2 separate regions of the Homo sapiens genome follow, and region 1 is linked to region 2. Evidence: fine-mapped expression QTL. Tissue or cell type: atrial appendage. Region 2 holds a variant in brackets; the other region holds the start of a gene. All regions are shown on one strand. Distances are between the middles of the regions. Region 1 holds the start of LINC01880 (long intergenic non-protein coding RNA 1880). Region 2 overlaps LINC01237 (long intergenic non-protein coding RNA 1237).

What was found. PIP is the estimated chance that this variant, and not a neighbour inherited with it, causes the effect.
Region 1: it holds the start of LINC01880, and the variant in region 2 is fine-mapped to the expression of LINC01880 in atrial appendage (GTEx, PIP 0.94).

The regions. Positions count from the first base shown.
Region 1 is chr2:242,082,837-242,085,754 of GRCh38, forward strand. It overlaps LINC01880 (long intergenic non-protein coding RNA 1880), which reads right to left and starts at 1,302. Exons shown (of 4, transcript NR_146651.1): 1 at 1,260-1,302.
Region 2 is chr2:242,056,200-242,059,117 of GRCh38, forward strand. The region is part of intron 3 of LINC01237 (long intergenic non-protein coding RNA 1237); the gene reads left to right. All of the region lies in intron 2 of LINC01880 (long intergenic non-protein coding RNA 1880), which reads right to left. Among named protein-coding and RNA genes, the nearest start is that of LINC01880, 26 kb to the right of the region's middle. The variant C/T (reference allele first, on the strand shown) is at 1,365.

The sequences.
Region 1 (2,918 bases), 27 kb after region 2:
CAAACCTGTACATGTAGGGTGATGAAATAATCTGTACAACAAACCCCCCAGACATGAGTTTACCTGTATAGCAAACCTGTACATGTAGGGTGATGAAATAATCTGTACAACAAACCCCCAGACATGAGTTTACCTGTATAGCAAACCTGTACATGTAGGGTGATGAAATAATCTGTACAACAAACCCCCAGACATGAGTTTACCTGCATAGCAAACCTGTACATGTAGGGTGATGAAATAATCTGTCCAACAAACCCCCAGACATGAGTTTACCTGTATAGCAAACCTGTACATGTAGGGTGATGAAATAATCTGTACAACAAACCCCCCAGACATGAGTTTACCTACATAGCAAACCTGTACATGTAGGGTGATGAAATAATCTGTACAACAAACCCCCCAGACATGAGTTTACCTGTATAGCAAACCTGTACATGTAGGGTGATGAAATAATCTGTACAACAAACCCCCAGACATGAGTTTACCTGTATAGCAAACCTGTACATGTAGGGTGATGAAATAATCTGTACAACAAACCCCCCAGACATGAGTTTACCTGTATAGCAAACCTGTACATGTAGGGTGATGAAATAATCTGTACAACAAACCCCCAGACATGAGTTTACCTGTATAGCAAACCTGTACATGTAGGGTGATGAAATAATCTGTACAACAAACCCCCCAGACATGAGTTTACTTGTATAGCAAACCTGTACATGTAGGGTGATGAAATAATCTGTACAACAAACCCCCCAGACATGAGTTTACTTGTATAGCAAACCTGTACATGTAGGGTGATGAAATAATCTGTACAACAAACCCCCCAGACATGAGTTTACTTGTATAGCAAACCTGTACATGTAGGGTGATGAAATAATCTGTACAACAAACCCCCCAGACATGAGTTTACCTACATAGCAAACCTGTACATGTAGGGTGATGAAATAATCTGTACAACAAACCCCCAGACATGAGTTTACCTGTATAGCAAACCTGTACATGTAGCCCTGAGCCTAAAATAATAGATTATTTTAAAAAGATACTGGATTTATGAAGTCCCCAGGAGGTCAGGAGGAAGAGAGAACGCTTGAGACAAGCATGGTCAGTGAGGAGCTTGCAGGGATGGCAGAGGGGCAGGGAGCAGCAGAGTTTGAGTAGAGGAACCAGAAGCCCAGCCCTGGACCCATCTCTGCCTTCCTGTGTGTGCGCCTAACTCAGCTTTCAGGTGAGAGCTGGGGCTCAGGAGGTTATGTACTCACTTGCAGTTGCACGTCTAGGAATCCAGATGATGGTCCCATGTCTGCTGTGCCCCCGCCCTACTCTATTGCTAGGACAGCCAACCTCTACTCAGGGGCTGCAGCCGGTCAGCTGGCATCTACCAGGCTCAGCTGAGAGGGGTTCAGAGCCTAGAGGAGCTGTGGCATGCCAGGTCTAGGCTGCCTGTTGGCTGCTGTCAGGATGAATGCTGTTGTAGATAGATTCTTTTTGGCAACCAGAGACTTTCAGACGTCAATGGCCATGCAGTCTCCATGTTGCCCTTCCCATCCTGACACCACACACTCCTTATGCTGCAGCCACCATGGATGCCTGAGTGAACAGCCCTCAAATTCTATTCTAACTCCTTATTTAAAAGATAAGGAGACCCAAGACTGAGGAATTTGACATAAATAAGGAAACCGGCTTGCCTGAGCTGACTACTGCCTTTGGTCTCACGATAGCTGCCTGGTGGCCTCTGACTTTCACAGCTAGTACAACCTTCCAGCACCTTCCAGGATTGGTTTCTGAAAGAGGGGATTGTTTTTGCTCCCAGTCCCCCTAAACATTCTGTAGGTAATTACAGCACTCATGGCCCCATTTTCTCACTGTGTATTTGCCACCTTGGGTCTGTTCAGATGGCAAGCTCCCGAAAACCAGGCACCTCCTCCTTGTACCCATGGCACCATCGTGGTGCCTGGCTGCTGTCAGCACAGAGCATTAGCTCTGAGACACCTCCTCCTTGTACCCATGACACCGTCGTGGTGCCTGGCTGCTGTCAGCACAGAGCATTAGCTCTGAGACACCTCCTCCTTGTACCCATGACACCGTCGTGGTGCCTGGCTGCTGTCAGCACAGAGCATTAGCTCTGAGACACCTCCTCCTTGTACCCATGGCACCGTCGTGGTGCCTGGCTGCTGTCAGCACAGAGCATTAGCTCTGAGACACCTCCTCCTTGTACCCATGACACCGTCGTGGTGCCTGGCTGCTGTCAGCACAGAGCATTAGCTCTGAGACACCTCCTCCTTGTACCCATGACACCGTCGTGGTGCCTGGCTGCTGTCAGCACAGAGCATTAGCTCTGAGACACCTCCTCCTTGTACCCATGGCACCGTCATGGTGCCTGGCTGCTGTCAGCACAGAGCATTAGCTCTGAGACACCTCCTCCTTGTACCCATGACACCGTCGTGGTGCCTGGCTGCTGTCAGCACAGAGCATTAGCTCTGAGACACCTCCTCCTTGTACCCATGGCACCGTCGTGGTGCCTGGCTGCTGTCAGCACAGAGCATTAGCTCTGAGACACCTCCTCCTTGTACCCATGACACCGTCGTGGTGCCTGGCTGCTGCATTAGCTCTGAGACACTGCTGTGTTTCCCTCCTAGTTCTGCATCAGGTGGTACTGTTTTGTTTTGGTGGCTTGGTTCATTTTTTCTTATTGCAGTATTATCACTGCATAGAAAGCAGAAGTGGTCTTCCCATATTGTGTAAAATCCCCATTAAACATACACCACATGCTTCAGAGCGGCAGGAACAGGAAGAAGGATGGGATTCCCCGTGCCCGAAGGTATACCAAGTCTACATTGTCCTGAGAGTTAGGGACTACAAACACTTGTCCGTGCAGCATTTGGGAAGGTCAGAGGAGACGACTGTGTGGTGTGCATTGG
Region 2 (2,918 bases):
ATCTAAAAACACATGTCACCAGCAGAGTTAATCACCTGTTGGACACACAATGCGCCGCACACCCCAGATCTGGAGCCGCCTCCAGGTCTGCAGAGCCTGGCGGGGTCACAGGCATCCATCTCTTCAAATGACGCTTTCTCATAATTCAACAGCCTTCAGCCTATGAACAATAATTTAGTTTTTGTAAAGAATAAAAAACACATCTTTTTATAAATTTGTTGAAAGGTAAAGTTCATTTTTTTCTCATTCCCCTCTTTTCTTTCCATCTCTTCTTGATGATTATTTTTTGAGGTTACTTTAATCCAGGATGAAATACAGCAATTAGAAAATAACATGCATTAAATCTTACAGTATATTAGAGAAAATCGTCAAAATTAATAAAAGCAGAAAGAGTCCTCTTTTGTAAAGAAAAAAATGAAGAAACTAATAGTCTAGAAATATGCGTATGCATTTAGTGCATAAAAATGGAAAATGGAGGGTAATTCCGTGCAAGCTGGACACCTGTATTTGAATAAGTTTAGTAATGAAAAAGGGCCAACCTATTTTATTTTAAGATGAGGATTCAGGGGGACTGGAGGGCCGTGGGCACCTGCGTCTTCCAGAGGCAACCCTGGAATGAGTTTGTTTCCATTTCTTGCAGCAGCTGGCTTAGCTAACCACACAATCTGAAAGATGCCTGAAGGCAGTTAAACAGTCCTCACCTATTCAGCCGTAATTCACCCAATTAGGTGACAGGTCCGACCCGAAGGACCTGGAGAGGCTCTCACAGTCATCACATCTTCTTTTTGGCCAGTTGAGAGCTGGCTCCGACTCGGAGGCGTGGGGGGCCCTGCACAGACCCAGGGGAGCTGCTGGGATGGAGCCCACCTCAGGGGTCTGGGACGTTGCTTCAGACTCGCCTTTCAACGGAACATGCTGGGCTGACAGCCTTGTGGTTTCCCTGACTTTGAATCGGGTCTGTTTGGCATATTTGCTTAGAGACCTAGTCTTGAAGAGTTCGATGGTTTGGCTTCAGAAATTGTTTTAGAATATTTTCGAATAGGACAGAGTGATCAAGGGAAAAATGCTGAATAGGAAACACTACCATGTAAATGTGGAATCTTTTAAAGAGCTAAAATATTAAAGTACTGAAACAATATGAAGATGTTTGATTTACTTATTTTCACACATACAAGATGTGTGTGTATTTGTGAGTGTGTATCTGTGTGCATTCCTGTGTGTGTGCACCTGGGTGTGCACACCTGCGTACCTCTAAGCACCGTTCTAGCTGTGGGGAAATAGCAGTGAACAATAGTCTTGCCCTCCTAAAGGGAGAGAGAAATAGGAGAAACGGGTAAGGAGCCTGGTACGGGTCGAGTGATAAA[C/T]GCTGTGGAGAGCGAAGCAGAGGGGCTGGGGTCCTGGAACCCCAGGCAGGGTCCACACTGAAGTTTTAAATTTAGGGGATCGGGAGGGTTATTTTGGTCAAATAGGAGGGGAACCTGCAGGAGCTACTGTGCTCTGGACGAGGAATGAGGCTGGCAGGCCTGGCCGGGGCATCCAGCTCTGTGGACCTGAAGCTTCCGTGACGGTGGCACTCATTTAGGGATGACAAGCCTTAGAGCCAAAGGTGGAGGTGAGCGCGAGACCAGGTTGAGCAAAGCCCCATCAGCCACGAGGCTTCCTAGAGGGCAGGGGGACTGGAGGACACAGGAGCATGAGGGCAGGAGCCCTGAGAACAAGGGGCCATGCTGGCAGGCGAAGATGTGGCTGATTGTCTGGGAAGGGGAGGCCAGTGCTGGGTGAGGGCGTGAACCTGCGTGCCCTTATATTTTGTGGTAGCCATATTTACAAAAACGAAACAGTAACCGGTAAAATTCCTGCTGCCGATGTATTTTACTGAACTCAGTATATCAGAACAACTATCCACTCACCCTGAAATCAATGCGACACATCTTTGGACATTTGAGACTCTATGCCACATACCAAGTCTCTAAAATCCAACTTGTATTATACATCTATAGCCCCCGCCCCATTCAATCCAGGGCAGCATTGCAGTGCCGTGGCCCCCAGCAGCCCACATCAGAGCCTGGGTGCTGACGTCCTGGCAGGGGGAACTGGAGGCGCCAAAAGGAAATGCCTTCTTCAGTAGGGGAGTGTCCCCCGCCCCACTGCTCTGGGAACAGCTGCAGGCAGGTTCCCTCTCTCCAAGCACTCTCAGACAGTGCTGTGATGAGACCCTTGTCACAGGTATTTTTGGGGACTCTGTGTCTTCTAGGAAAGGCTCCCGGGTCGTGGTCTCCCTGACAAGAGTCCTGCACTATGCAGGTTGCTCTCCTGATCCTCAAATGTGTCCTGGAGCTTCCCCTGGACCCTGGACACCCCAGCACATGGGTGAGCCGATGTCCAATGCAGGCCACGCACGAAATGCATCCACAGTGGGAGCCAGTGGTCATCCTGGTCAGGGCCAGCCTGCAGTTACCCCTGCCTGGCAAATAAGACATGGAGGTCGGGAGGGCTGGTTCCCTACTCCTGGTCATGTCACGGGACATTCTGGAACTGAGGCTCCATGTCTAGAAGCAGTGCCTGCTGGTGTCCCTGTGAGCTTGGGGGCCCATCTTCCAGGCCAGTCCTTGGTTCCTGCATAATCATTATGATACTGCCTTTCTTCTTCATAATTTTATGGAGGCTGACTTTATTTTCATTTCTCTGGTATATTTTTTAAAAACAAAAAGCAAAGTAGAAAGAATAATGTAAGACAAATGCCATTTGTTTTCTACCCGATAATATTCTGTAATAATTGTAACTCTCTTTTAACAAAATAAAAAACATGAACTGTTGCAGGCAAACCCCTCTGTCACCCTCCACTGTCTTTGCCATTTCTGATCTTTGCCAGAATTGTCTTTTAAAATTTTATTAGTGGTGAAATATGACAGTTTCCC